Linked DNA regions of Homo sapiens: all the other regions are linked to region 2. Evidence: fine-mapped expression QTL. A gene starts in region 2. Each other region holds a variant in brackets. All regions are shown on one strand. Distances are from middle to middle.

The links. PIP is the estimated chance that this variant, and not a neighbour inherited with it, causes the effect.
Region 1: its variant is the best candidate, but not a certain one, in a credible set for the expression of TRIM14 in whole blood (INTERVAL, PIP 0.52).
Region 3: its variant is the best candidate, but not a certain one, in a credible set for the expression of TRIM14 in whole blood (INTERVAL, PIP 0.86).

What each region holds. Positions count from the first base shown.
Region 1 is chr9:98,011,740-98,022,220 of GRCh38, reverse strand. ANP32B (acidic nuclear phosphoprotein 32 family member B) reads right to left here. Exons shown (of 7, transcript NM_006401.3): 6 at 9,749-9,800; 7 at 6,278-6,857. The coding sequence ends at 6,790. Among named protein-coding and RNA genes, the nearest start is that of ANP32B, 34 kb to the right of the region's middle. The variant T/A (reference allele first, on the strand shown) is at 6,004.
Region 2 is chr9:98,112,367-98,122,847 of GRCh38, reverse strand. TRIM14 (tripartite motif containing 14) reads left to right here and starts at 3,626. Exons shown (of 6, transcript NM_014788.4): 1 at 3,626-3,866. The coding sequence starts at 3,660. CORO2A (coronin 2A) reads left to right here. Exons shown (of 12, transcript NM_052820.4): 12 at 1-1,873. RefSeq lists a silencer at 3,693-3,792 and an enhancer at 4,103-4,152.
Region 3 is chr9:98,091,763-98,102,243 of GRCh38, reverse strand. TRIM14 (tripartite motif containing 14) reads left to right here. Exons shown (of 6, transcript NM_014788.4): 3 at 2,080-2,313; 4 at 7,215-7,377; 5 at 10,243-10,335. Among named protein-coding and RNA genes, the nearest start is that of TRIM14, 22 kb to the left of the region's middle. RefSeq lists enhancers at 169-288, 549-598. The variant G/A (reference allele first, on the strand shown) is at 5,917.

The DNA.
Region 1 (10,481 bases), 100 kb after region 2:
CGAGACTCTGCCTCAAAAATAAGGGCAGTTTGGACATAGACACACACATACACAGGGGAAACTCCATGTGAAGCGACACATGGAGAAGATGGCCATCCCCAGCCAAGGAGAAAGGCCTGGAGCAGCCTCAGAAGGAACCCATCCTGCTGACACCTAGATCTTGGACTTCTAGCCACCAGAACTGTGAGACAATCAATTTCTGTTGTTTAAGCCACTCAGCATGTGGTACTTTGTCATAGTGGCCCCAGGAAACGAATACATTTGGTGATTGAGGAAACATTCACTGAGTGCCAGTGTACTGGGCCCAGCAAGAGGAATCAGACACGTGGCCCAGAGTGCTATCTGGCAGGGGAGACAGGACAGGGAGCAGAGCAGTCACTGCCAGGGGCAGAACAAGTCATCAAGGTCATCCAGCGAGAAATCCAGGGAAGGAAGCCTCCTGCCTGCCAGGCTGTCTGGGGCTAATGCGTTTGCTCTGGTTCTTGAACACTGGGATGGATTTTGCTGGTGCAGGTAGGGAAAGAGACAGAGGAGGTAGCATGAACAAAGTCAAAGTGCGACAAGGTGCAGATGGCCAGCTAAGGCATGTGGGGACCATGTGAAAAGAAGGCTGGAAGGTGGATTGAGAGCAGGTTGGTGGGGGAACGATGCCAGGAGTGCTCTGCAGGCCCTGGGAAGTCACAGAAAGTTCCTGAGCTAGGAGCTGCTGAGAGCACCAGCTGTGTGGTCACTTGAGCAGTGGTGGAGAACAAGCTGGGGGTGGCGGGCCGGCACTGAGGGCTCTCAGGTGGTCAGTAATGCAGACCCAGGAGAAGCTGTCAGTGGGAACTTGGATTTCCTCAGCCTCATTTCTTTTGTCTTCCACTTGCTGAAAACACCTGCATTGTGAAGAGCTCTAGGTTTCAGAAATTCCCATCCACTGAGACAAGCTTTGCCTAAATGGAGTGGTCCTAGCAGTCCTGTTAGCTGCCTCACCCCCAGCCTTTCCCAAGAGTAGCATTAAGCAGGCAGGGAAAGAAGTCACCCTTGATCTGCACTCTGGGACCTTGCAAGTGACCCTGAGCCTCAGTTCCCTTGTCTGAAAGATGGGGTCAGACATCTTTGAACAAGACAAGAATGTGCAAGAGCCTGTAAAGTGCAGTGAGCCACGGACACATCAGGGGCCATCACTCCCTTTGTCAGAAGCAGGGCTCAGGCAGTTCAGTGGCTGGTCAGGACTGAGCTTGGCAGGATGGTTGTAGGTAGGATCTGGACAGGTAGCTGTCGGGGGAACTAGGTGGCTACAGAAGCAGGAAACAATGGCCCCATGTTCCAGCAGGAAGGGAGCCTAAGGGCAGATCGGGCCCTGACCAAGTCACTGGAATGGACAAAGCCAGGGCTGGATGGGAATTCCCATTCTTGGGGCTGGCAGGTCCCTTCACCCACTGTCAGACTCCCCAGCGCCAGGTCACTCACTCTGCGCAGATGCTGGCTTCTGACCCACACATTGCTACTGTGACTCCCAGGTGCAGCTGATCTAGCACCAGCTATGCAGAACCACTTCCAGGGATTTCTTGTGTGCTCAGGCCCTGGCTGGATGCACGCTAGTGCAGTCTATCACCGACAGAGGCCCATGGCATAGGCTGTCCCCAGCTCTTCTTAAGTTACTCCTCATGGGTATCCTGCCCTGTCATGCTTATCGACTCAGAGAGTGGGCAGGGCTCTCACAATTTATAAATGAGAAAACTGAGCTCCAAGAAGCAAAGGGTCTTTTGCAAGTTCTCTAAGATGGTATATGACAGGGCTGCCTCCCACAGTGTGAAATTATCATAAGAGTTGTAGTTGTAAGTATTTTTTTTTTTTTTTTTGAGATGGAATTAACTTTTGCTGCCCAGGCTGGAGTGCAGTGATGTAATCTTGGCTCACTGCAACCTCTGTCTCCTGGGTTCAAGTGATTCTTCTGCCTCAGCCCCCCAAGTAGCTGGGATTACAGGCACCCACCACCATGCCTGGCTAATTTTTTGTATTTTTAGTAGACACGGGGTTTTACCCTGTTGGCCAGGCTGGTTTCGAACTCCTGATCTCAGGTGATCCACCCACCTCAGCCTCCCAAAGTGCTGGGATCACAGGCGTGAGACACCATGCCCAGCCAGTTGTATTTACAGTGCTCGCTGTTTGCCTGTGTCCCTAAGCATTTTATGGTTCCAACTCTGACAACTAGTTCTGTTCACGCCCTGTCCTGAACCTTTGGAACCAATGAGTCTTGTTAGCTAGTGTCTACTTTGCTCCCTGCTTTGGACTAAGGGAGAAATAAGTCCACTGACTTTCTCATCAGAACTGAGCCAGGAGCAAGGGCCCTAGGGAGGGATATATGGCAACATACAGCAGCTTTGGGTTTGGGCAGAGCTGGGTTTGGATCCCAGCCTGGTCATCATTACTAGCTACATGACATTGGATAGGGCACTTCACCTCTAAATCCTTCAGTTTCCACATCCATAAAAGGGGATTATAGGTTATTTTTCAGGGAAGTTGAAGACTAAATTCCTCTCAGTAAATGGCCATCAATGGCAGATGTATGTACTAACCTGCATCTGTAATGCTACTAGATGACTGACTAGTCTGGCCAACTTATGTATATACCTGTGGCAATTTCTGGAAGACACCTCCTTCACTGAAAGTGCAGCACTCATCTGGCCCCATGCTACTGGTCTATCCTTTTCAATTCCATCAGCCTAAACATAGCTCTGACATTTTCTACTAGCCCAAACCCTTACCTACTCCTTCAGAGGGTAACTGGGAGTAACGGCATGAAATACAATTAGTATTCCTATTGCTGGTTAGGCTCACGGTGAACCACATGCAGATTTGTACAGCTGAAACAACCTGCAGGCTCACTTAGCTTGGGCCTCGGAGTTTCAGTTGAGGAACTGGAGGCTCAGAGGGGAAGTGACAGAGGGGAGCAAATACCATTCAGTGGCCAGGTTGGGGCTAGAATATGATCTCTAGATTCTGTTTGAGGCCTCCCTCCCCATACCTCCACTCTTCCTCTGCCAGGGCTGGCGCTGGGGAGTGCTGTCTTAAACACAGAGACCCCAGGCCCCTCCTGGCCAGGGGTCAAGTCCCCTTAATCAGAAATAGAGTTAACTCTGGCCAGGTGCAGTGGCTCATGCCTGTAATCCCAGCACTTTGGGAGTTCAAGTCAGGAGGATCACTTGAGCCCAGGGGTTTGAAACCAGCCTGTGCAACATAGTGAGACCTCATCGCTACCAAAAATATTTAGCCAGGCATGGTGGCACGCACCTATAGTCCCAGTTACTCAGCTGAGGTGGGAGGATTGTTTGTGCCCAGGTCGAGCATGCAGTGAACCATGATTGTGCCAGTGTATTCCAGCTTGGGTGACAGAGTCAGACCGTCTCCAACAACAAAAAGCAATAGAATAAGGGTATTTTCTCCATATGCCCTCCCAACACCCCTGGGACAAGTTATAAAATACCCACTTGATCAGAGATTATTAAGCTGACCTAATTGGCTCTGAGGACTTCCACACTCACTGCAATCTTGGTGATTTTCCTGCAGAGCAACTGTTTGGCTGGCTGCAGCTTAAGTCTACTAGTAACTTGATTCCCTTTCCAAACTGTCAACACGGCGGTATCATCAGGCTCATTAAAATTGATGGCAGCACAATGCAACAGAGCTGGAGAAAACTGGAAGGTCATAGCATAGTGTACAACCACTTTGTGCTTCTGTCTCACCTTTCTCTGGCGATGGGGTAGGTAGTGTAGCCCAGATAGGAATGCCAGGAACAGGACGACTCAACTCTCCTGTATCTGTCCTGGAGTATGTACCAGGAGTCCTGGTGGTGGTGATACAGGAGCGGGTAGGGTGCAGTATCTTACACAAGGTGGTTTGTGCATTTCCACGCTGGCCACTATCATTCTTCAGGTGCTGGACTCCTGAAAGAGGAGTGAACTAAAGGTAAGAGCAGAGGTTGAAAACAGGGCGCCATGGACCGGGCACAGTGGCTCACACCTGTAATTCTGGCACTTTGGGAGGCCAAGGTGGGTGGATCACCTGAGGTCAGGAGAGTTCAAGACCAGCCTGACCAGTATGTTGAAACCTCGTCTCTACTAAAAATACAAAAATTAGCCAGGCGTGGTGGCGGGCGCCTGTAGTCCCAGCTACTCGGGAGGCTGAGACAGGAGAATTGCTTGAACCCAGGAGGCGGAGGTTGCAGTGAGCCAAGATTGTGCCACTACATGTCAGCCTGGGCGACAGCGAAGACTCCCATCTCAAAAAAAAAAAAAAAAGAAAAAAGAAAATAGCTTCAAAAAGATGGCATACCAATGTATCACACATGTAGGTGTGTATGTAGAACACACCTCCACCAACCTCGGAGCAGCTAGTCAGGACCAGTCATCTAGCCCATCATAGCTGCCACCCAGCTCAGACATTTTATAACTAAACTTACTGCAGAAGCTGGAAGCAAACCCTCTCAATGTTCTCCTTCAGATGGGAGACAACTCCAAAAATAGTCTGCTGTGTGACCTCATCACCAAACAGCTTGCTTCTCTGAGGACCATGTCAAAGGCATCTTCACTGGCCACATACAGGTGACATCAATATTTTACTATAATGCACAAAAAGGCTTTGACCTTCAAGGCCCCCTACAAGAGCCCAAATGACTTGTCCAGTATTATCATCTATTCATGTGTTGTCAAATCTACTTGTATCTAACTGTACTCAGCAGTTTCCTACCTTTAACCTCTGCTCACCAAGATACTCCCTTCTCTCTCTATTCCTATTTATAGACGCTATTCACACTTGCATGTGCAGCTGAAGTACTTTCTTTTCTAAGAAGCTTCCCTCCCTCCAGGTTGGGTGCCATCTCTCCAGCCTCTGAGCTACACTAAAACTTACCTAAACCTCTTGCTCCTAGGTCCTAGTAAATATTACTTGTGTTGATGTCTTTTCTTCCTGACTAGTTACTATGAGCACCAAGGGCTGGCTTGTCTTTTTAACCCAATTCCCTTCCCTTTTGCCCAGCCAATAAGCCTGGCATATCCTACAGGCTTGGTAGATACTGGGAAGTTCTGTAAACTTTAAAAAACAACTAAAAACAACAACAACAACAACAAACCGGGAAAAATAATCACTCAAAGTTACTGTGTTTGATATTTGACAAATAAGCAAAACCTTAAGGACACACTTAGGCTACAGAAGAAACCATTTTACAATGTATTGAAGGTTTGCCAAAATGGCCTTATGGTTGGGGAAAATGATGTGTAATACCTGTAAAATCAGAAATCAAATTTTCTTGGATTTTCTTTGCAAAAAAGAAACTCCATTTTAAAGTCTATGGGAGATTTTGATTTTAAAGTACAGTATTTGGGGGCTCCATAGAGACTGTGACTTGTTATAAATTCAAATTAGATTCCAATTTTACATATTGCATTTACATGCATCAAAAACCTCACTCATTCCAGCAGCTATAAGCTAAAATTTACTGAAACAATCCTTAAATCTTCCACTATAAAAAACTGTATTGATAATGCAGTCATACATCTATTTTCGCTAAACGGTTAATCACTGAATACAGACAGAATATCCTCCTTTCTCAAATCCCTTTAAGATCTGTAAGAATAGAGAAAATTTCCATCTTATGGAAAACCTGAGTTGACCTCAGGCAGTGCCTACCCACTGCTTGGTGAGGCTTTTCACATGTCATTCCCCCTTTTCACGCCTGTCTTGGCAACAAACCATACTGTGTTCACCCATCAGTCAAACCCTACATGCTTCAGACTAGTGGAAAGCCCATTTTTCTCTTCAGACCTTCCTGTCAGCAAGGGTCACAGAACATCAGTGCTACAAGTGACTTCAGAAGCCATTTGGTCACACCCCTTCAATTTTCCAGACTGGGTGGTGACCCAGAGTCAACACAAGGTCACACAGAAAATCAGTGGCAGAGCCAGAACTAGAATTCAGATCTCTTGGGATTCTGGTGAAGGCCTTTTGCTTTACACTATC[T/A]TCTTTCCCTTAATTCACATAATACTTGAACCTAACATTTTACTGGTTTTCAGGGCCCCAGAGTATTCCATTTTGAACGTTATTTTTTAAAGTATGCTTCATTTACTCCCAGTTATCAATGAGGATTTGATCTAAATGCTCAAAGATCCTACACACTTGTGCAATTCCCCTCAACAACTACTAATATAAAAATGCCAAATAAACCAGTTCTTTGGTGTTTTAACATGAGCTTACAATGAGAGTATAATTTAAAAATGTAAGCATACAACTAGGCTTTACCAAAGAGTAACTGTTTATTTCGCTTAAATTCTTAAAAATACTTTTTTGGCAGTTGTCACATAAAATGTCCTAATGTAAAAAAAATAATAATAATAATTAAAAAGCAAAGCATGAAAAAACAGACCCAAAATGTTAAGATTTTATTTACAAAGCTTTTTTGTTGTACAGAAAGTAAAAATGCTGTTACAATCTCAGTGTAACTGGTAGCCACAGACGGTTGACTCACCAATCACAGCTATCCACGCTACAGCAAGAATCTTACACAAAAACCTAACAACGCTTACAATTTTGTTGGGGTGAAGTCCACAAGCTTGGTGGTAGATTACCAAGAGGGACTACATGGAAGGAAGGCGGAATGTCACAGGAACTATTCTTTGGCTCTTTGGGTGGGTGGGTGTCCTGGGGTTTGTATCACAGCTACCTTTTTTTTTTTTTTAAACAGCTACAAAATCCATGAGCAGTCCAACCAATACTGAACAGTTCTGTTTCTGCAGGTCATCTGGGGTCTTAATCATCTTCTCCTTCATCATCTGTTTCTCTCTTCCTCTTTTCACCTTTCCCACCTTCTTCCTCCTCTGTACAGTAACAAAAATTGACTTTAGGACAGTGGAAAGGCATTTTGCTTAGATTATTGCCAATGGAGGCAACAACAACAAAGTTTTTGACAGTTAGGAGATAAAACAATGTAAACTTGATCAGATTAATATAGGTGACTAATAGCAAGTATAAGTGGTGACCACAGAACCAAGAAAAGCAAAATGCACAGCAGCACCTCAACTCACCCAGGAAAAGTTAATCCAGTTTCCTCGATTTTAAGGTGTTGTCTTCCAAATGTTTCTTTTTACAAATCTAGCAATTATTAAAGTGCTTATTATTAACCTGAGCTGGTCAGGCCCACTGGCTCATGCCTATAATCCCAGCACTTTGGGAGGCCAAGGCAGGCAGATCACCTGAGGTCAGGAGTTCCAGACCACCCTGGCCAACATGGTGAAACTCCGTCTCTACTAAAAATACAAAAATGAGCCAGGCATGGTGGCATGTACCTGTAATCCCAGCTACTCTGGATGATGAGGCATGAGAATTGCTTGAATCCGGAAGGCGGAGGTTGCAGTGAGCTGAGATTGTGCCACTGGACTCCAGCCTGGGTGATAAGAGCGAAACTGTCTCCAAAAAAACAAAACAAAACCCCTCGTGCTATCTAGCACGTCTTCAAGACATGCTTACTTTCAAGTGATCTCAGACAAGCTTAACCTCTTTAAGCCTTTTTCATCTGTAAAATGGGGACAATGGTACTGACTTTAAAAGGTTATTCTGAGAATTAAATAACACACAAAACATAGTATGGAACATCATTAAGACTCAAATTGTAGCAAACTAATATTAACTAAAAAGGAAATTCTTAAGAGTATTATGTAGTCGAGACACAGAGACTTACATATAGACCAATTTTTTCAACTAATAAAATCCATGGTTATTTTAATGAAATTAACTATATGTTAAATCATATTTCATACAGGTTGTTTTTTTTTTTGAGACAGACTCTGGCTCCGTCGCCCAGGCTGGAGTGCAGTGGCTTGATCTCGGCTCACTGCAAGCTCCGCCTCCCGGGTTCATGCCGTTCTCCTGACTCAGCCTCCCGAGTAGCTGGGACTACAGGCGCCTGCCACCACACCCGGCTAATTTTTTTGTATTTTTAGTAGAGACGGGGTTTCACCGTGTTAGCCAGGATGGTCTCGATCTCCTGACCTCATGATCCACCCGCCTCGGCCTCCCAATCATACAGGTTCTTAAAGGCAGTGACCAGGTCCTAACCAGGGTAATATCTAGTGTAAATGTAATTGAGAGCTTGACAAAGTGGATGCTGAGAAAACATCAGCCAACAGCACAGTGAACACCTGATTTTCTGAGACACAACCATGAGACTTTTTATTTGAGACAAGGTCTCCCTCTGTCACTCAGGCTGGAGTGCGGTGGCACTATCATAGCCTCACTGCAACTTCAAGCAGTCCTCCCACCTCAGCTTCCCAAGTAGCTGGGACTATAGGTGTGCACCACCATGTGCAGCTAACTTTTTTTTTTTTTTGAGACAGAGTCTTGCTCTGTTGTCCAGGCTGCAGTGCAGTGGCATGACCTCAGCTCACTGAATCTCTGCCTCCTGGGTTTGAGTGCGTGCCACCACGCCTGACTAATTTTTTAATTTTTAGTAGAGACAGGATTTTACCATGTTGGCCAGGCTGCTCTCGAACTCCTGACCTCAGGTGATCCACCTGCCTCGGCCTCCTAAAGTGCTGAGATAACAGGCGTGAGTCACCACACCCGGTCCCAGCTAACTTTTTAATTTTCTGTACAGACAGGGTCTATGTTGTCCAGGCTGGCATACTTTCAACAGTATTAAATAAGTAACAGCTATTTCATTTGTCTTGGTTGTAGTGGGGAAAGGACTAACACTGACAAAACTGGGAAACTGCTACATCTATTTATATATCCTGAAAATGATGGTTCAATTATTAAAGCCTTTTTTTAAAAAATGAAAGAACTCCAAACACAGAAACTCACACTTGACAGTAAACCAAATGACTGGTCCTAAAAACACATTTAAAACATGGGGAACAGGCTAGGCATGGTGGCTCACACCTGTAATCCGAGTAATTTGGGAGGCCGAGGTGGGTGGATCACTTGAATTCAGCCAGGAATTCAAGACCAGGCTGGCCAACATGGCAAAACCCTGTCTCTACTAAAAATACAAAAATTAGCCAAGTGTGGTGGTGCATGCCTGTAATCCCAGCTACTGAGGAGGCTGAGGCAGAGAATCCCTTGAACCTGGGAGGTGGAGGCTGCAGTGAGCTTAGATTGCACCAGTGAACTCCAGACTGGGCGACAGAGCAAGACTCCATCTCAAGAAAACAACAGGCCGGGTGTGGTGGCTCACGCCTGTAATCCCGGCACTTTGGGAGGCTGAGGCGGGTGGACCACGAGGTCAGGAGATTGAGACCATCCTGGCTAACACGGTGAAACCCCGTCTCTACTAAAAATGCAAACAATTAGCTGGGCGTGGTGGCAGGCGCCTGTAGCCCCAGCTACTCTGGAGGCTGAGGCAGGAGAATGGCTTGAACCTAGGAGGCGGAACTTGCAGTGAGCCGAGATCGTGCCACTGCACTCCAGCCTGGGCAACAGAGCGAGATTCCGTCTCAAAACACCACCACCACCACCACCACCCCGAAAAAAACCCCATGAGGACTGAAGACCAACAGGACCCTTGCCATGAGACAGGAATAACTGCTGTAGCAGCAGGGAGCCTGCACCAGCACAGACACACTGATGGGACGATAGAAACGAGAATGTGAATGTGTAAACCACCAGAGCCAAGAGTATTTTATTTTCTTCTCAGTGGTATCATATTCTAAATAATGGATGTTTTTCTCTAATTTTTAACTGAGAATGATCAAAATGCATGCATTAGGCCCACCTTCATCCTCATCCTCATCTTCATCTTCTTCATCAAGTCCAAATTCTTCTTCCTAAAGAATAGCAAACAGCATAACATTAAATTAATTCTGCCAAATTGAAAAGTGCATATAGTACAAATTCTGCCAAACTAAGAAGTACAAATAAATGCAACAATATCAATCAAGCAGGAAACTGTAATGTTATTTTTATCTACTTTGATGTACCAAGACCCACTGATTTTCCTTAACGAGCTTTATAATTTTTCTAAGAAAAATTTTTTTTAGAAGCAAGCAGTTCATTTGCTAGATGTTTAATTAGTATATAACTCTGGATAATTCAAGAAAACATCTTAAAATCTCAAATTTCAAAACAGATTTAGACAAAAATTTCTATATCCCATTCATATACAAAGCTTCTTTCAGAACTTTAATGTCAATCATACACCTAATGACATCACACAAACCCCAAGCCTTATTTTTATACTACAAAAGAGGATGCGTTTTGTTAACAACTAATGTTGTCTGCCTGTTTCCCAAACCTCTTTGAGGGTCAAAGTCAAGACACTGTTTTCTCCTGCCCTCGTATAGCATTTATTTCCTCAGGGATCCTCTATTATTGGGTATTTCATAAACCAGACTGTGCTCTTTCAGGGCAGGACCACAATCTCATTTCATTTTGTACTCCCAACTCTTTAACATAGCAGATATATATTTACTGAATTACACTGAATATACAAGAAAAAGTTTAGACTT
Region 2 (10,481 bases):
CTGTGCCCATGACTGCTGACTGCCACCACCAAGGCCCTCAGGTACACAGCCTGCCTCCTGCAGGATGATGTGGGCAGATTTCAGCCCTAGTTAACAGAAGAGTCCCCCAGGAGGTAGGGGGCCCCCATCACTGGAGACATGCCAGCAGAGCCTCTGGCCACCTAACCAGGAGGTCTTCTGAAATGACTATACGAGGTAAAGAAGTAGTACCAGATGGTCCCAAAGTTCCCTTTTAGCCTGAAAGCTTTTCTTTGTCCCTCCTTAGTGAATCTGTGTTCCGAGCCCTACTCTAAAGTTCAGTGGTCAATACAATAGTCCACCAAGAGACTGGGAATGATTAGAAGTGAAATTGGTCCCTCCTTACCAAGGAGGGGCAGATGATCTCCATTGCACAGGGCGATTAGATTCTGGAGCTGAGGTGGGGACTGCAGGAGGCCACCTAGTCTGGTAGGTTTCAACCCAAGCTGTGTACATTAGAATTCCCTTGGGAGCGTGCAGGAAATACAGATGCCCATGCCACATTCCAGACCAACTGAAGCTGAATCTCCAGAGTAGGGCCTGTATGGTCATATAAGCTCCACAGGTGATCTGCAGTACAGTGAAGATGGAAGACTGCATGTGTACCTATTTGCAATAAAGATGAAGAGGACAGCAAGCTCCAGACAGGAGCTGGGACTCAACCCAGATCTCTTAAGTCCTGCCTGGTGGCTCCTTAAAAGTCCAGAAGTGTTGCCCCAAGCCCTCCCTCAACATCTCTGGGAACCGCAGCTGCAGCACGATGGGGGTTCAGTGCCCCTGTTTGCCCCTTACCCAGCTGTGGTTTATTCTGCTTGTATGTCTGCACAGGCCGGATGCTCGTGTTCCTTGTCTTATTCTCCATTTACTCAGTCACTGGGGCTCACTCCCGTCTGATGCACTAGCCAAGATTGCCTTAGTGTGCTCCAGAAAAGAAGGCCAAATCCCAGGCATTGTCAGGGCAGCAGAGCTCTACAGGATAGGCTTACCTTTCCCACCTGTGTGGCTAGCACTTCACAGTTTACAAATTCCTCCCACCTCCACTCAGTGACACATGCTGTTCTAACACAGGTCAGGCAGGCATTACAGTCCCCATGTTCAGAATCAAAGACCTAGCCTCAGAGAAGTGAAGAAACATCATGCCAAGGTCATTGACTGCCAAGCGGTAGAGGTGGGGTTGCATCCAGAGAGCTTCCCGGTATGCCTCTGCACAATGCCATTCCTTGGCCAGCTCCCTCCACCCCAAGGGACCCAGACTGCACACTTAACAAACAGGACACAGGTGTCTTTGAACAAACTTTTTTGTATTATTATTTTTACATCTAGAATAAATTATTTAAATTATTTCACAGCAAGGGAGAGGGATAGGTAATTTTTATCAGATATTTTTTTAAACCATCTGTTTTTTAAATTACATTTTTGTTTATGTTCTTGAGCTGATGTAGTGGAACTTGCCTAGCACATTCAGGTCCCAGCCAGTTGGCAGAGCATGCTCTCATCTCCTTATTCCATACCCTGGGCGTCCCCTTTCTGTTGACTCAGGAACTTTCTGAGAATGAGGACAGCACTAGGAGATGAGCTTTGGCAGGTATCCACCTTAACGCTACAATAATTGTGCTTCCTGAAACAAAACTTGAGATTGTATCATAGAAGGAAACAGGAAGTCAGAAATCAAATCTATGCTTTTAATTGAAACCGTGCCTGAAACAGTTTGAATGATTGTTTTAATGTTGTTTCTGAAATTCCTTGTACCTTTGTGAAAAATAATGATAATAAATAAAAGTGAAAATAAATAGATGTGGAATATGCAATGGAAATAATGTAACAAAATAATAAACATCTGGCCATTTTACTACAAGGAGCTTTCCTTTTCTTGATTTGTTCCACAAATACCAATTAACTATCTACTCTTGGAGTCAGACACCAAGCTGGAAAACAGGCAGAACAGACAGTCTTTGCCCTCTCCAGTTTTCAGTCATGGCTGCGGGAATGGGGAGGGCCAGGATAGGGAAAGCATAGGCTGTTCTGGAAGGAGAAGGAGGGAAGGCTTCCTGGAGGAAAAGATAGTAAGGTAGAAACCTGCAGAGTAAGTTGGAATACTCAGGGCAAAGGGCATTTGGGAAGAAGAATGTTCCAAGCAGGGTAAACTGCACGTCCCCCAGTCTTGAAAAAGCACAGGGTGGAGCATAGGCAGGGCGGAGACCAAGGATCTTAAGAAAGAGCTGAGGGCTTTATAAGTGGAAGTCTAGACTTGAGCCTGGGGGGGCAACTGGAATTTGGGGTGGTGGTGTGTGTGTGAAAGTTGTCAGTACCAAAACAGAGTCACTTACATCAAAACCAAACTAAATGGTGCTCCTGTAGTCCCAGCTACTCCAGAGATGAGGTGGGAAGATCACTTGAGCCCAGGAGTTAGAGGCTGCAGTGAGCTATGATCGCACTATTGCACTCCAGCCTGGGCAACAGAGCGAGATCCTGTCTCAAACAAACTAAATGGTGCTGGGAGGCCATGAAGTGGGGGGCCCTCATCAACGATTTGCCTGGTAACAGGAACTATTATTGCAAAAGATTCCACCAAACTGCAACCTTGCACAAAGAACCACAACCTTGCACAAAAGCCATGATATGAGGACATCTGCCCAGCAACTGCCTGTTCAACTTTTGGACTGAAGCCACCTGTATTAATTCTTGTAACCAAGTATTATTATTTTAAAACGATCTGGCCGGGCGCGGTGGATCACGCCTGTAATCCCAGCACTTTGGGAGGCCGAGGCGGGCAGATCACGGGGTCAGGAGATCGAGACCATCCTGGCTAAAACAGTGAAACCCCTTTTCTACTAAAAATACAAAAAATTAGCCGGGCGTGGTGGCGGGCGCCTGTAGTTCCAGCTACTCGGGAGGCTGAAGCAGGAGAATGGCGTGAACCCGGGAGGCGGAGCTTGCAGTGAGCAGAGATGGCGCCACTGCACTCCAGCCTGGGCGACAGACCGAGACTCCGTCTCCAAAAAAAAAAAAAAAAAAAAAAAACAAAAACAAACAAACAAACAAAAAAAACAGTATATGCAATCCTCCTCGTTTTGCCTTTAAAAGCCTCTGCTTTCCTTTGCCTCCCTGAGTACTCCGCGTCCCCACCCCTTGGGTGCCATGGCACATTTATTCCCGAATTGCAATCCTTCTGCTCAGTCCGAAATAAACTCAATTGGAGAATCTCTGTGTCCTTATTTGAGGTTGATGAAGGTATCTTACAGTTGTGGGAATGATTATCTTTCCGGGGAAAAGGGCAAGAGAGGATCAAGGGAAAGTGAGAGGAGCACCCCCGGAAGGTCACAGCCAACTTTGGTCCCATCATCAGGGCTGCAGTTTTCTGGGCGTTACTGGAACAGCGTCATTAAGCAGGAAGCCCACCCTCTCCTAGCTGGCTCATTAGGAGCTTCCCATTTCTGGTGGGACCACCTCCCGGCCTGGGCGGGCAGAGGGAGCACCCTGCTGGTCGGAGGATGCTCCGAGGCCCGACGCTGCTCCCGGCGGGCTGTCATCCTCCTAGGGGTCGGCCGGCCGGCCTGGAGCCGCCCCGCCCACGGCCGAGGTTTCGGTTTCCCTTGGGAGCCCCGCCCTGTGTCCCGGGGAGCCGGAGGAGGTGGAGATGAATGGCGGGCGCGGCGACCGGGAGCCGGACCCCTGGGAGGTCGGAGCTTGTCGAGGGATGCGGCTGGCGCTGCCCGGAGCATGGCGACCGCGTGGCTGAGCTCTTCTGTCGCCGCTGCCGCCGCTGCGTGTGCGCGCTTTGCCCGGTGCTGGGCGCGCACCGTGGCCACCCTGTGGGCCTGGCGCTGGAGGCAGCGGTGCACGTGCAGGTGGGGACGATGGGGACGGGGTTCGCCGCGCGGGAGTTGGGGGAGCCAGCCCAGGCATAACGGCCGAGGAGGGGGCGTGCCTGGCCGTGGCCAGTGGCGGGTTACAACCTGGAAACCAAAGGTGCCCCAGAGGGCGTCTAAGCGGTCGACCGAAAGTTCAGAGCGGGAGCCTGAGACCCAAGGAAGGGCAAAGGCGAGCCAAAGCCATCAGTTGAGCTTCAGAAAAGGTGGGTTTAGGAGTGAGAGGTTGGGAGCCCAGGCTGGTACCCAGATGTCCTTGACCGTGTCCACCATGGCCGATCCGCCACACTGCCATTGGGCTGGAAGACAGTCTGCCTTTTAGTTAACAGAGGTACAAACTCTCCCTCTTAATAAACAGCCCTGTGTAGCTCAGAAAGCCACACAGACATCTCAGGTTTACTTAATCTGCAGTCCACAGAAAGGGCCTGTGAACTTTGAGCTGAGGACGGCCTGACTGCCCTGGGAGCAGCCTCAGCTGTCACTACCTACCTCCTCTCCCCTCCCCGGCCACACAGACACTCCCATTCCTGCTCATAGCAGCCCTGGGTGAGCCATTATTATTACAGCCATTTTATAGGCCACAAGAGGAAGGCTCTGGAGGCAGGGGCAGGCCTTGAACCCAGGACTCCATTAGCCAGATGCCCCCAACAGGGCCATTGTCACCGTGGAACCCTTACCCATGCATAATCCTAACAGTGCCCCAGGGGCTCTGGGCTCCTGCTCCAGCTTCCCAGCTGACTTTTTCTGTGGCTTCTCTCAAATCCTTCTCTCTCTCTGGGTTTCATGAAGCCTGGGTGAGGTAGGCCCTCATGTCTGACAGCTGTTGATCCTACCACTTGTCTCCAAGAAGTCTTCTGTGATGAATTCAGCCCCATCGTGAGCCTTTCTCCGGTACTGCATGACTCCAGACCACCACACTGTGACAACCTTGGAACTCCAAGGTGAAAAGGGGATCATGGGGGACAATCCAGTGGAGTCGTGGGCTCAAGACCTGTCCCTGCCACCAGACCCTTCCTTTTTTTAACGTATGAAATGGCTGTAATTATAATAATGGCTCCTTGAAAAACTGTTATTCAGAATTAACAAGGCTGCTTTCCACAGATCTGGCTCAAGAGTCTCACCCATCCATTTGTCCATCCCCCTACCCACTACCTACTGTCAACTTGAAGTAATAAGATTCAGAAAATATGATTAAGTACAGAGTTTATCCAAGCCTAAAGCTTGAGGATGGCCAACTGGGACCATAGATTCAAATTTCTGTGACTATCCACTCTGATTAGCAGCAGTTACATATAAGTTTTTAAGGAAAAAAGAAGAAGCAGTTCCTAAATTGTTTACCAAGAATTTACATTAAAATGACATAAGCAGTCGGGCACAGTGGCTCATGCCTGTAATCCCAGCACTTTGGGAGGCTGAGGCAGGAGGATCACATGAGGCCAAGGGTTTGAGGCCTGGCCAACATGGGGAAACCCCGTCTCTATTAAAAAATATGAAAATCAGCCAGGTGTGGTGGTACACATCTGTAATCCCAGCTACTCAGGAGGCTGAGGCATGAGAATCGCTTGAACCTGGGAGATGGAGGTTGCAATGAGCCGAGATCACGCCACCGCACTCCAGCCTGGATGACAGAGTGAGACTTTGTCTTAAATAAATAAATAAATAAATAAATAAATAAATAAATAAAACAGAGAATCTCTATGGCAGAACAACACCAAACCTATTCCACTGGGGAGTCAACTAAAAACATCACGAAGAAAATCCCAAGCCTTCTTTAAAAGCCAGGAATTGGCTTCTAAAACTTTTTCTACAACCTTCCTTGTTGTAGCCAGGAAATAATTCAGGATTTAGTCCAAATTGCAGGAAAATAAAAACTAAAAAACAATGGCCAGGGCTGGAATCTAATAACAGGAATAACAGGTGTGCATAACAGGTGTGCTAAGATTTTCTTCTGAAACATAATTTTTCTCTCTCTAGTTCCCTGTTTTTACCAAAAATGAGTCTTGATAGGACAAATTTACTTGCAAAGTAAGTTTTAATATTACACTTGGCCTGATAATTTGCATTATTGGAACTTTCATAAGGAATTTTGGATTTGACTTTTTTTTTTTTTTTTTTGAGACACAGGGTCTCACTCTGTCACCCAGACTAGAGTGCAATGGCATGATCGTGGCTCACTGCAACCTCCACCTCCCAGGGTCAAGCAATCCTCCTACCTTGGCCTCCCAAGTAGCTGGGACTATAGGTATGCACCACCACACCTGGCTAATTTTTTTTTTGTATTTTTTTTGTAGAGACGGGGTTTCACCATGTTGTCCAGGCTGGTCTAGAATTCCTGGGCTCAAGTGATCCTCTTGCCTCAGCCTTCCAAAGTGCTGGGATTATAGGCGTGAAACACCACGCCTGGCCTGGATTTGACTTTTAAAAGCCTTACAGCTAAAAAGCCAAACCAAGGATTCACCATCAGACTATGCCTGTGATACCCATACACATTGGGTGAATTATTCTCTTCTCAAGGTCCCAAAATATCTTGAGGTTCCTAGACCTGTCGGAAAGTGACATTCTTTTCTTACCACAAGGTCGGGAACCTTGTAAGGGAACTGTGTAGACAAGGACCAAGCTAGTCCAGTCTTTCCAAGGATTTTTTTTTTTTTTTTTTTTTGAGACAGGGTCTCACTCTGTTGCCCAGGCTGGAGTGTGGTGGTGCAATTTTGGCTCACTGCAGCCTCCACCTCCCAGGTTCAAGTGATTCTCCCACTTCAGCTTCCTGAGTAGCTGGAACTACAGGTGTGCACCACCACTCCTGGCTAATTTTTGTATTTGTTGGTAGAGATGTGGCTTCACCATGTTGGCCAGGGTGGTCTTGAAAACTCCGACCTCAAGTGAACTGCCCACCTCAGTGTCCCAAAGTGCTGGGCCCCCTTTTATTGTATTTTATTTTATTCTTGTTAACATTTTTTAATAGAGGCGGGGTCTCACTATGTTGCCCAGGCTGGTTTCAAACTCCTGGACTCAAGTGATCCACCTACCTCAGCCTCCCAAAGTGCTGGGATTACAGACCTGAGCCACCAAGCCTGGCCCCCAAGGGTCTTCTTATGGGCTCTGTAAACTTGACTTCAGTTCCTGAAAGCAGTCTGATCATATATGAAGATATATCATTTCAGTCAAAGCCTTGGTAAAATTACCAGTGTCTCCAATGTGGTCTGTTATGAAAGAAAACATACTCTTATTGAACTTATGCAAATAACTATATTGTCATAAAATAAGAATACTCACAAATAGCCAGGTGCGGTGGCTCACGCCTGTAAACCCAGCACTTTGGGAGGCTGTGGTGGGCGGATCAGTTGAGGTCAGGAGTTGGAGATCAGCCTGGCCAACATGGTGAAACCCCATCTTTACTAAAAATACAAAAATTGTGCTGGGCTCAGTGGCTCACGCCTGTAATCCTAGCACTTTGGGAGGCCAAAGTGGGTGGATCACGAGGTCAGAAGTTCGAGACCAGTATGACCAACATGGTGAAACCTATCTCTACTAAGAATGCAAAAATTAGCTGGGCATGGTGGTGGGCACCTGTAATCCCAGCTACTCGGGAGGCTGAGGCAGGAGAACTGCTTGAACCCCACGAGGCAGAGGTTGCAGTGAGCCAAGATTGTGCCACTGCACTCCAGCCTGGGCAACAGAGAAAGACTCCACCTCAGAAAGAAAAATTAGCCAAGCGTGGTGGCATGTACCTGTAGTCCCAGCTACTCAGGAGGCTGAGGCAGGAAAATCGCTTGAACCTAGGAGGCAGAGGTTGCAGTGAGCCGAGATCATGCCACTGCACTCCAGCCTGGGTGACAGAGCAAGACTCTGTCTAAAAAAAAAAAATTAATTTAAAAATGAAAATAAAAAAAGTAAACACAAATAGTTTGCAAATTTTGGTGAAATCAGGTAGAGAGAAAGACAAATGTTTCAATTTTGCTCACAAAAGTATCTTTTATCCAGTTGCTGTGACAAAAGAAAAAATTTTCTTGACTGAAAAACAATATAAAAAGAATCAGCAATGTTTCAAATTTTAAAAATCATAAAAATCACTTTTATCCTCTATCAGTTTAGTCCCATGTAAATAATTCTTGCTCTGCTTGATGTTGGGTTAGCAGTCTTCATGAATGCCTCAGGTTTTTATTAGAGTTCTGGAAGCTTTTGCTTAATCCAATGGTAAGATCTCTGAAGTTACCAGAAACCTGTATTCAAGAGTACTTGTCAGGGTTTTTTTCCAAAAATTTCCTTAAAGATGAAGCAAATTTTGTAGCTGATTATAAACGACTTTTTTTAAAAGAATCAAAGTAAAATAAAAATTGTCGGCTGGGTGCGGTGGCTCACGCCTGTAATCCCAGCACTTTGGGAGGCTGAGGCGGGCCGATCACGAGGTCAGGAGATCGAGACCATGGTGAAACCCTGTCTCTACTAAAAATACAAAAAAATTAGCCAGGCGTGGTGGCGGGCACCTGTAGTCCCAGCTACTTGGGAGGCTGAGGCAGGAGAATGGCATGAACCCGGGAGGTGGAGCTTGCAGTGAGCCGAGATTACGCCACTGCACTCCAGCCTGGGCGACAGAATGAGACTCTGTCTCAAAAAAAAAACAAATTGTCTGTGGATGATAAAAGGCTTAGAATAGCCACGGTCAAAGATGAAATTGACTAGGATATGTGGTTATTTGTGTGGCACACACCAGTTTATCATAATAATTATGATAATGATATACTGATAACATATACCAAGACATATCAGACTTTTAGGAATCTCATACAATTTTGGAACACATTAATAATACGCTTTTATAAATATAACTCAAAGAAAGTTAAACATCATTTCTTATTTGACAATATTTCCCATATGACTTTGACATCCCAAATAAGCCTAATGTGTCTCTTTTGGACTTCCAGGGGTCCTGGTTATGCCCAAGTTAGCTTGGGTCAAAAAGACTTAATTTAATTTTGGGAAGTATCTCAAATATTAAAGGTTTAAAACACTTGATATAGAAATAAGAAAGGTTTAAAACACATGATCAAAATAGAATCACAGGTCACTACAAAATAATGGTAATTACTTTAGCCAAAATGATTATTCAAAGATTTCAAAAAGCAAAAACCACTCTGATAGAGGAGATTCAGTTCTCAATCAAGAGACCTAATAAAGACAGCATGGGACAAACTCTCCCCAGTTACCTTTTCTTTGCCATTTATGCAAAAGTAAATACATCTTTTACCGTCTCTTATTAATTCTACATTACATTTTTATTCAAAGGAGAAAAACAAGTTTTACTTTTAGGCCAGGCACAGTGGCTCATGCCTGTAATCCTAGCCCTTTGGGAGGCCAAGGCAGGCAGATCACTTGAGCTCAGGAGTTCAAAACCAGCCTGAGCAACATGGTGAAACCCTGTCTCTACAAAAGATACAAAAATTAGCTGCGTGTGGTGGTGTGTGCCTATAGTCCCAGCTACTTGGGGGGCTGAGGCAGGAGGATTGCTTGAGCCTGGGAGGTCAAGGCTGCAGTGAGCCAAGATTGCACCACTGAACTTCATCTTGGGTGACAAAGTGAGACCCTGTCTCAAAAAAAGAAAAAAATTACTTAGGTGTTAGTATATTATCTATCATCCAATTTCAGTCAGCTTTGACTACACAAGATAAGATAATCGATAATCTCTCACCATTTTCTATTAAAGAGCAGATCAATGCTCTGATAAAACCTGGTTGTTCCAACACAGGAGCCCAGACTCTGGCCTTACATGAGTGTGCTTTTGATATTAATACTTAAGTTTTAGAAAAACTTATAAAAAATTCCTTCTTTTTTTTTTTTTTTTTTTTTTTTGAGATGGAGTTTCGCTCTTGTTGCCCAGGCTGGAGTGCAGTGGCATGAACTGCCTCACTGCAACCTCCACCTCCCAGGTACAAGCAATTTTCCTGCCTTAGCCTCCCGAGTAGCTAGGACTACAGGTGCACAACACCATGCCCAGTTAATTTTTATATTTTTAGTAGAGACGGGGTTTCACCATGTTAGCCAGGCTGGTCTCAAATTCCTGACCTCAGGTGATCCACCTGTCTCGGCCTCCTAAAGTGGTGGGATTACAGCCATGAACCACCGCGCCTGGCCATTTCCTTCTGATTTTTTTTTTTTTTTTTTTTTTGAGATTGAGTCTTGCTCTGTCACTCAGGCTGGAGTGCAATGGCGCAATCTCTGCTCACTGCAACCTCCACCTCCCAGATTCAAGTGATCTCCTGCCTCAGCCTCCTGAGTAGCTGTGATTACAGGCGTGCACCACCACACCTGGCTAATTTTTGTATTTTTAGTAGAGACGGGGTTTCTCCATGTTGGTCAGGCTGGTCTCAAACTCCTGACTTCGTGATCTGCCTGCCTCGGCCTCCCAAAGTTCTGGGATTACAGGCAGGAGCCACCACACCCTGCCATTTCCTTCTCATTTTAACCAATTTGATCACATACAAAATGTCTTTTGTGAGATTAATCTTCCACAGACCTTCTAGAATTTGCTTAAATCTTCAGTTTTGTCCTATACTTCCTTTTTATTTTGGCATTCTACCTTAGGACAAAAATTTACTT
Region 3 (10,481 bases), 21 kb after region 2:
GCTGGAGGTGGAGTTTTCTAAGGTTGTGCTGCTTGAGCTGAATGCTTGCAGACAGGATGCCTGGGTGCAGGTGGACTGTGAGTTGAGTGCTTGTAACAGGATGCTTGAGTGCTAGTGAGCTGTTTGTGGTTGACCCTATTTCTCAGAACGTTCGCTCCCCACTGCTGTTGTTTCTGTTTCTGCTAGTGACGCCCATTTTTCAATGTTTTTTTCTTTTCTTTTTTTTTTTTTTTTTTGAGTCAAAGTCTTGCATTGTCGCCCAGGCTGGGGTGCAGCGGCCTGATCTCAGCTCACTGCAAGCTCCACCTCCCGGGCTCAAGTGATTCTCAAGCCTCAGCCTCCCAAGTAGCTGGGATTACAGACACCTACCACTACACTTGCCCAATTCTATTCTCTATGTGTAGAAGCTATATACTGAGAATCTTGGTACACAAATCTTCATGCACATGTGAAAGCATTTTCTAGGATATAAGTAAAGTAAGAGGAATTGCTGCATGAAAGAATAAATGTATTTAAAACTTTGAGGCCAGGTGCAGTGGCTCATGCCTGTAATCCAGCACTTTGGGGGACCAAGGCAGGCAGATCACCTGAGGTCAGGAGTTCAAGACCCAGCCTGGCCAACAGTGACTCCCTGTCTCTGCTAAAAATACAAAAATTAGCCAGGCATGGTGATGGCCACCTGCAGTCCCAGCTACACGGCTGAGGCAGGAGAATCGCTTGTACCCGGGAAGCGGAGGTTGCAGTGAGCCGAGATCTTGCCATTGCACTCCAGCCTAGGCGACAAGAGCAAAACTTCGTCTGAAAAAAAAAAAAAAATTGATAGCTATTGTCGTATTGTCCTCTAAAAGCGAAGTACCAATAGACCCTACCACCCACAGTTTATATAAATGCCCTACTTCACATACCCTTACAGACTGTATTTCAGTCTCTTAAAAGTCTTCCAATCTAATGATCAAAAACTATTTTCTGGGCTGGGCATGGTGTCTCATGCCTGTAATCTCAGCATTTTGGGAGGCTGAGGCAGGTGGATCACCTGAGGTCAGAAGTTCAAGACCAGCCTGACCAACATGGTGAAACTCCGTCTCTACTAAAAATACAAAATTACCTATGTGTGGTGGTGCGTGCTTGTAATCCCAGCTACTCAGGAGGCTGAGGCAGGAGAATCGCTTGAACCTGGGAGGCAGTGGTTGCTGTGAGCCAAGATCGCACCACTGCACTCAGCCTGGACAAGAGTGAAACTCCTTCTCAAAAAATAAAAATAAATAAATAAATAAATAAAAATTGTTTTGTATTTCATCTAATTGATTTATTCTTTGGGCTTTATGTACAGTGTTTTAGTTTAACTGGACCTTCTCTTTTGTTTGTTTTCCTTAACCTTTCATTGTGGAAAATCTCATATTATTTTAATTATTTTTACTTTTATATTTTTAGTACAAAAAATACAAAAATTTGTTCTAAAATGCCACTGTTACACCACACATACACATACATACATTTCCATATATAATTTGAGTTCTTTTAAAAGCTCTTTATTTTGTACTTTTGACCTCTTATCTATGCTTGAGCCACATGGTTTTAGATCCTGTAGATTTATTGTTTTGTTATCAGATAAGGCAGATAAGGCAGATAACCTCTTATCAGTTTTCTCTTTATTGATTTTTTTAAAGCAATTTTGGCTTTTCTTATGCTTATTCTCTCTCCTAATGATTTAATAATTTTTAATCAGCATGTTAAGATTTTGATTAGAATTTCATCAAATTTATAGACTAATTTAGAGACAAATAGTGACTTTATAGTAATCAACCCTCCCAGTCACGAATATGGTTTTGTATTAGGTATATTTCCACATATTTTGCTATTTTTTCTCCCATTTTCAAAAGGATCTTTATTTCTCCGTGCATTTTACGATCGGTGATGGGCTGGTGCTTAGGAAAGCTTTGGTTTTTATAAGTTGATCTTGTGTCTGACTGGCCACTTTACTGAACTCACATTTCAGACGTTATGATTTTTTTCATGTTGATTATTCTGGATTTCCTGGTTGGCAGACATGTCATCTGCAACTGGTTTTTCTGTTTTTAGGCTAATGCAGAGTCAAGTAAAACCTGGCTGAAGGGGAAATTCACTGAACTCAGATTACTACTTGACGAAGAGGAAGCGCTGGCCAAGAAATTCATTGATAAAAACACGCAGCTTACCCTCCAGGTGTACAGGGAACAAGCTGACTCTTGCAGAGAGCAACTTGACATCATGAATGATCTCTCCAACAGGGTCTGGAGTATCAGCCAGGAGCCCGATCCTGTCCAGAGGCTTCAGGTAATGCTGGGGTCACTGCTCTTACTGCTGCCACCTGCCACCCACACTTCATCTCAAGTATTGTGGCATTGAGCACAGTATTGACACACTAAGCAAGTACATGGACTATTGTCTTGTCACCATGTAGACTGTCTTGCCCCCACACAGGTGGTCAAGAGAATATACATTGTTAGGAAGATAATACACCTCTTGGGCTAATTAAATAATATTAACAGCCACCAATTTCAAAGGCCCCTGTGTCCTGAGCACTGTGTAGTTTAGCACTAATATTCACCAGAACTCTGCAAAGTGGGCTCACCCCATTTTATAAACAAGAAATTGAGGCTCAGTGAAGTGACTCACCTGGTCTCACACAGCAGGTAGGTAGCAGAGCTGGTATCAGGTCTGGCTGTCTGTCTAGGTCTGTCTGACTCTAAACCCACAAGGGACCCTGCCTGGCCCTCTGACTGTACAGTCTTTTTTTTTTTTTTTTTTTTTTGAGATGGAGTTTCTCTCTTGTTGCCCAGGCCGGAGTACAGTGGTGCGATCTCAGCTCACCACAACCTCTGCCTCCTGGGTTCAAGCAGTTCTCCTGGCTCAGCCTCCTGAGTAGCTGGGATTACAGGCATGTGCCACCATGCGTGGCTAATTTTGTATTTTTAGTAGAGACAGGGTTTCTCCACGTTGGTCAGGCTGGTCTTGAACTCCTGACCTCAGGTGATCCGCCCACCTCAGCCTCCCAAAGTGCTGGGATTATAGGTGTGAGCCACCGCAATCAGCCTGCCTTTATAGTCTTAAATTGAGACACCCCACCTGAAAAGGCAGGTGTCCTTGCAGCTACTGAGCACATTTCAAAGGCTGAGTCACAGCTGGCTCAATGGTACTCCTTGGCCACTGGGCTTTGTTGAGGAAGAGTCTAAGAAATAGCCCCTGTGGCAGATCACTTGAGGCCAGAAGTTTGAGACCAGCCTGACCAACATGGCAAAACCACCTCTCTACTAAAAATACAAATATCAGCCAGGCGTGATGGCGTGCACCTGTGAGGCTGAGGTGGGAGAATCACTTGAATCGGGGAGGCAAAGATTGCAGTGAGTAACGAGATCATGCCACTGCACTCCAGGCCGGGTAACAGAGTGAGACTCTGTCTCAAAAAAAAGAAAAGAACTAGCCCCAGGGATAGTCATTGCTACATTTAGAGAAAGCATGTTGTTGAGGATGGTGTTCCTGTCTACTTTTTTCTTTTTTTTTGAGACGGAGTCTTGCTCTGTCGCCCAGGCTGGAGTGCAGTGGTGTGATCTCGGCTTACAGCAAGCTCCACCTCCCACCATTCTCCTGCCTCAGCCTCCCGAGTAGCTGGGACTACAGGCGCCCCCCACCACGCCCAGCTAATTTTTTGTATTTTTTAGTAGAGATGGGGTTTCACCATGTTAGCCAGGATGGTCTCCATCTCCTGACCTCGTGATCCGCCCCCCTCGGCCCCTCAAAGTGCTGGGATTACAGGCGTGAGCCACCGCACCCGGCCGATGGTGTTCCTGTCTTTAGGGAACCGTGGAAGAAACTGTTGTCTGGTGTCAATATCCCTGTGCAGTCACTTCTGCACTAGAATTGCTTTTCCACTAATAGAGCTCCTCCTGTTTCCTTCTTTGCCTTGGGAAGTTCAGAGCCAAATCTGCTTTGACTAACCAGACTAAGGCTTCATGGCAAACACTTTGTGTCTAATTTTCTCTTAGCTTCATTTTTCTCGCTATAAAGAAAAATCTTGCCTTATTAGAGGACCTTCACAAGACACTTTAAAGGCTGTGGGACAAGGCAGGGTACAACTAAAAGTGGCACCAACTCTAACCACAGATTAGTATGGGCTCTGGCTGGAAAATAAGACAGACAAATAAGCCAGTCAACACAAAACCCGCCAAGCCAGTCTCCAGCTGGGGATTTCCACTCTTGTGTCTTTATGTGGCCTCAGTCGGTTCAGCCTGTGTCTCATTGTCAGCTGTTTGAGCCAAATTCTGGATGAAGTGTTTTCCTAGGCATAATGGGTGTTGTGCTTTAAGAGAGGCAAGATGCACAAAGTGTTACATGTAATTGTCTCTTTTTAAATAATGGTCGTTTTTAAGGCTATGGAATACAAAGGAATCCTTCCATGGAGAAGCATGCTATTCTCACATCAGAAAACGGTTTCAGGGCTTTGTCATCTTTTTTTTTCAAATTCTCTTGGGCCACAGCTAATGATTTTAATCATTCACCGTTCCCACCTTCTATGTGTTCATTCGTTTATTCATCAATATGTACTGAGCCAGGTCACTTGCTGGACATTAGGAGCTCACAGTTGGGTGGGGGACTTGCTCAGAAACAGTTATTTACAATACAGCTTAAACAATTTTGTAAATATGAAGCTAGCAAAATTATGTCCAAGAAATGTCTGACACTCTCTGGCTGGGAGAAGGATGCAGTCTGGGAAGACTTCTAGGAAGAGGTGATGGTAGGGTTGGGTGCTGGACAATGAGTAGGAGCACACTGTATATAGAGAGGACGCAGAGAGGACAGACAGGAACTGTGTACATGTGAGAGCTTGACAGGCTGGGGAACCAGCTGGGGTGCAGCCTGACTTGAGGAGAGGTGAGGGTATAAGGGTGGGGGGATTGAGAGACACAGCTGGATCCATAGGCCATAGTTAGTTCATGAAGGCCTTATGTGCCATGGAGTTCAGACTTTGTCCTGTAATGAGATAGGAGACAGGAATGTTTGTTTGTTTGTTTTTGAGACAGGGTCTCACTCTATTGCCCAGGCTAGAATGCAGTGGCTCAATCTCAGCTTACTGCAACCTTTGCCTCCCAGGTTCAAGGGATTCTCCTGCCTCAGCCCCTGGAAGAGCTGAGACGACAAGCACGTGCCACCATGCCCAGCTAATTTTTGTATTTTTAGTAGAGACAGTGTTTCACCATGTTGGCCAGGCTGGTCTCAAACTCTTGACCTCAAGTGATCTGCCCACCTTGGCCTCCCAAAGAGCTGGGAGGTGTGAGCCACTGCACCCAGCCCAGGGGAGTGTTTTGAACTGAGGGATGAAAGCATTCACATGGTCAGATTAGTGCTTTAGAAAAGTCACTTTAGAGATAGAGTGGAAGATGGACAGAGGAGGCCAGGATGGGAGGCTGGAAGAGAACTTGGGAGGAGGCCACAATGTCCAGGAGAGAGATGATGGTGGCCTGGACCAAGACAGGGGCAGTGGGGATGGGGAGAAACAGGCAGGTCAAGAGATGCCACAGGAATGGAGATTGGAATTGGAGAATGGGTAGGAGGAATCCCCAGATGATGCCTGGGTTTCTGGCCTGAGAGATGAAGGGCTGGGATTTCTGTTCTCTGAGTCTGCAAAGGCAAAAAAGTGGCTGTGCTCGGTTTCATGCATTGATTTATTCCATCATACATATGTTTTGAGAACCTGTGTGTCAGGTCTGGTGCTAGCTGCTGGAGTTTGGGGTTACCAGGTGGTGCCATGTGTCCTCTATCGACCCCTCATCCTACCCTACTCATCTGCCCTCTGAGCCCCCTCTCGCCTCCCCGGAGCTGCTCCCTGCCCACCCTGGACTTCCTGCTAGTGCTTGGTCTCCCCTGGCCAGCTCCATTCCA[G/A]CGCTCTGGGTGTGACCTTAGGCCTGGTTCCCCACCAAAATGAGGTTGGACTCTATAGACTCCTGGCCTCCTAGGCTGAATGGGGCTTGCAGGCCATCTCACAGCCCCCTCCCAATGTACAGCATGCTGCCAGGTGGGATCTGCCCCTGCCCAACAGCCAAGTGCTAGGCCACCCTCCCTCCCTCCTGAGGCCCTCATCTGTCCACCCCTTCTCGGGTGGGCAGCACTGCCACTGCCAGCCAAGCCTGATCACCTGAGGCAGTCATCTTCCTTCCAACTCCTGGCCAGGACAGAGCTTCAGAAAATGCAGCCATGGTTCTTACCTGCAAACATGAGAATCCACTGGAACTGTTTTAAGCAAGAAAGGAGTTTATGGAAGAGTATGAGATAGCCCATAGGATCTCCAGGAGGGCCAGAGAGTCGGGATGGAAGATGGGCAGCAGGAATGAAGTCCAGACTCCAGCAGGGGTTGGTGCCAGTATAGGCCCCACGGCACCCCTGCTGGGCAAGACATCACCACTCACACCACTGACCAGAGCCCCCACCACTGCTGTCCCTCAGTGCCACATGCCACCATCACTACCTTCACCGTCATTTCCAAATCCACGCTTTGGCTTGGAGGCGTCTGGTCACACTCCTGCAGCACAGGTGCAAAGGGAGCTGGGAGAGGGGGTTTTCTAGCTTCTCCTTAGTGAAGCCACATACCACAGGAAAGTATTGAAGAGGGGCTGTCCAGGTGCAAAACAGGACACATGTCCCCTGCGGTGGCCACACCCCCTCAGTCAGCACTGCAGCTGAACCTTGCTGGCCTTTGGCGTCCTTCTTAGAACATGGTTTCCTGCTCCACCTTTGAATAAGCTCCAGGTGCTCCTTCCCCAGGGAGACTGACCTCTCACCCTTTTTGTACCCAAGGCAGACCCGTGGCGCAGTGTGTGTGAGGCTGAAGCCTCTCTGGGAAGGGCCCCGTGTCAGCCTGACCCTGCCTTCTGCATGCATAGCTGGCACAGAGTAGGTTTCAATGAACACGTAAGGAAGGAAGGAAAGGAGGAAGGATGGAGAGGGAGGAATCCCCAGTGCCAGCACTGAAAAACCGCACCTCCGCATGGCTCCCACCTCAGGGATGCCGTATGGTCTCTCCAGGGCTCTGCTCCTGCAGGCATGGCCTGGGCTGACCATAGGTGCCAGGCCAACGTGGAGCCTGGGCATGCTGGTGTGGGTTTGTTCCTGGGTGCAGCACAGGAGGCTGGGATGCTGCCTGCATCTCCCAGAGCCACCCTCACCCCCGTGTGCCCACACAGGCATACACGGCCACCGAGCAGGAGATGCAGCAGCAGATGAGCCTCGGGGAGCTGTGCCATCCCGTGCCCCTCTCCTTTGAGCCCGTCAAGAGCTTCTTTAAGGGCCTCGTGGAAGCCGTGGAGAGTACATTACAGACGCCATTGGACATTCGCCTTAAGGAAAGTAAGTCGCCGAGTGACCAACTTTGTGTCCTTAACTCCCCTAGTGTCCTTTAGCCCAGAGACGAATGCAAAGATCATCTCCCTACATCCTGTCTCTCCCACACTGAGGCCCTTGGCTGGGCGGTCAGGGGCTCCTGGGCCTGGTGCCCAACCCACCCTCACCACTTCACCTCCAACCCTTCCTGAGACTGAGACCTGCCCTTCTCCAGTCACACTGCCCTGCTTCTGCCCCTCAGATTGCTCCTGGGAGCCTGCCACATCTCAGCCTTGCTCTGGGCTCCCAGCTGGAATGACCAACTCTTCCTCCTTCTCTTCCTCTGGCTGGGGCCAAGGCCTGGCACCCCTTCGAGGCAGACTGGCACAGCTGCGCCCACCTGGGAAGCCCTTTCCTGCCAGCCCAGCCCTGACTCACTCTCTCCTTTAGCCATCTCCCCTCTCCCTTCCCGCTCCAGGGCCTGCCCATGTCCTGCTAGAGGGTGCTCATGAAGTGGATACATGGACCCCCCTCCTTGCCCCTTGTAAGCACGTGAAGGGCAGAAACCAGCTTTAGGTCCAACTCTGAGGTCCCCCCAGGGCCTGGCACAAAACATGTACTCAAAAATATCTGTTCTTTGATTCATTTATGCATTCATTCATTCATTCACCTCTGCTATCATGATTCATTCAGAACATTTATCAAGCCCCTCTTATATGCCAGGCATAGCAGGGCACAAAACAAAGCTCCTTCTCCTCTTTTGGTGCTCACAGTCTTCGTAGGGGAAGACAGACCGTACACAAACATGTCAGGTGACAGGAACTGCTATACTGCTATAAAGAATAATAAAGGCCGGGCGTGGTGGCTCACGCCTGTAATCCCAGCACTTTGGGAGGCCGAGGTGGGTGGATGATGAGGTCAGGAGTTTGAGACCAGCCTGGCCAACATGGTGAAACCCCATCTCTACTACAAATACAAAAATTAGCCAGGCATGGTGGCATGCACCTGTAATCCCAGCTACTCGGGAAGCTGAGGCAGGAGAATTGCTTGAACCCGGGAGGTGGAGGTTGCAGTGAGTTGAGATCATGCCACTGTACTTCAACCTGGGTGACAGAGCAAGACTCTGTCTCAAAAATAACAATAATAATAATAATAATAAACCAGGGCAGGATGGAAGACAGGAAAGTGACAAGGAGGAGGAGCTGTTTTATATAAGCAGTTGGGATGGCCTCTGAGAAGGGGACACTCAAGGTGGCCCAAAGGAAGCATTCATTCTGCAGGTTCTGTGGGTCTGAAGGGCCAGAGAGCACAGTGGTCATAGGCACGGCCTCTGGAGCTAGGCCTCCTGGGTTCCTATCCGAGGTCTACCACTTGGAACCCTGCTGAACCCTGCCATCTTAGACACGGCTCCTCCCTTTTCCATGCCTCTGTTTCTGCATCTGTAAAGTGGAGACCATAATGCAGTCGCCTCTCCTGGGCTGCTGTGAGGATTAAATGAGCTCTTACACATATAGCGCTCAGGCATATTAAGCACCACGTATGTCTTGGCGATTATGATTGCTGCTGCTGTTACGTCTGGGGGAGGTATTCTAGACAGAGGGAAAAGCAAGGGTGGAGGTCCTGAGGCGCGATGGGAGTGAGCTGGCCATATCGAAGGAGCAGCAATGGGGACAACAGGAGTGGACGTAGGGTCACAGGGGAGAGAGGAAAGAGATCAGAATCCAAGGATTTGGACGTGGGCAACTCGCAGAAGGAAACTGTCATTTTCTGAAGTGAGAAAGAGTATTTAGGACTGGAGGGAATGAAGTGAACCTGTTAGATTTGAGAAGTTGGACTTCCCATGTGGTGGTATCGCCTCGGCAGTAGGACCTATGATTCTAGAGTTCTGGGGAGAGGGGAGAGGCTTTTGCCTTGATGAAAGAACAACTTCAGCCAAATTAAATTTAAAGGAGTTTAAATGAGCAATGAACGATTCATGAATCCGGCAGCCCTCTGAGCCACAGTGCACTCAGAGACTCCAGCACAGCCACGTGGTGGAAGAAGATTTAGGGACAGAAAAAGGAAAGCGACGTACAGAAAACAGAAGTGAGGTACAGAAGCAGCTGGATTGGTTACAGCTCGGCGTTCGCCTAATTTGAACACAATTTGAACAGTTGGCTACATCTGATTGGCCAAAACTTGGTGATTGGCACAAGTGCAGGCTACGGTCTGTTTACACCTCCACTTGTTATTGTTCATGACGTACAGAAAAATATGTAGGCCGAACTTAAAAGATGTAAGGAGGAGCTTTAGGCAAAACTTGATTTAAACAGCCTGCAGGTGGGCTTCCCACAGATCTCTACAGGCCCCTGTGATGAGTGCTGGGAGTGATGGGGGCGGAAGGCACTTCTGCGGAGGTGCTGAGTGAGCTGCGGCCCCAATAGCTGGGAAGGAGGCAACCTGGGCAAGGGGGGAAGGGTGTGGGGGGGCTGTCCAGGCAGAGGGCACAGCAAGTGCCAAGGGCCCTGGGTGCCCCTGCTGTGCCCGCTTGTTGGGATAGACTCCCCTCCTTCTTTCTTTCTGAGCACTCAGACCTTCCTGAGGACTCAGCTCTACTTTCTTGTTTTCCATCTTTACCCTGGAATCTGCACATCTTCCCTGAGTCGCCGCCCATCCTTGAGTGTTGGATCCAGTAGTTGTTCGCGCCTCAGCTCCTCCTCCTATTTAGGACTCTCCCACACCAGCCTTGTCATCCTGGGGTTTTCCTGTCCCTGTGAATTCACATAAATCCCTTAAATCTGCCTGGCTCTTGGGCGAGATTATGCGAATCTCCAGTTGTGTGGTATTTTTAGCACGTCTTATTTGTCTGCTTGCATAAGCTCCGGGCGCTCATTTCTCAACAATTCCTTACAGGCATAAACTGCCAGCTCTCAGACCCTTCCAGCACCAAGCCAGGTACCTTGTTGAAAACCAGCCCCTCACCAGAGCGATCGCTATTGCTGAAATGTAAGACCCCCGGGAGTGGGGATAGGGTGGAGACGGTGGAGATGGTGGGATGTTGGGTGGAGGAGGATCATGGAAATGGAGGTCCCTCTTTTTTTCTCATTAGAATTTATTTATTTATTTATTTTAAGAACTTGTTTTTTAAAAAA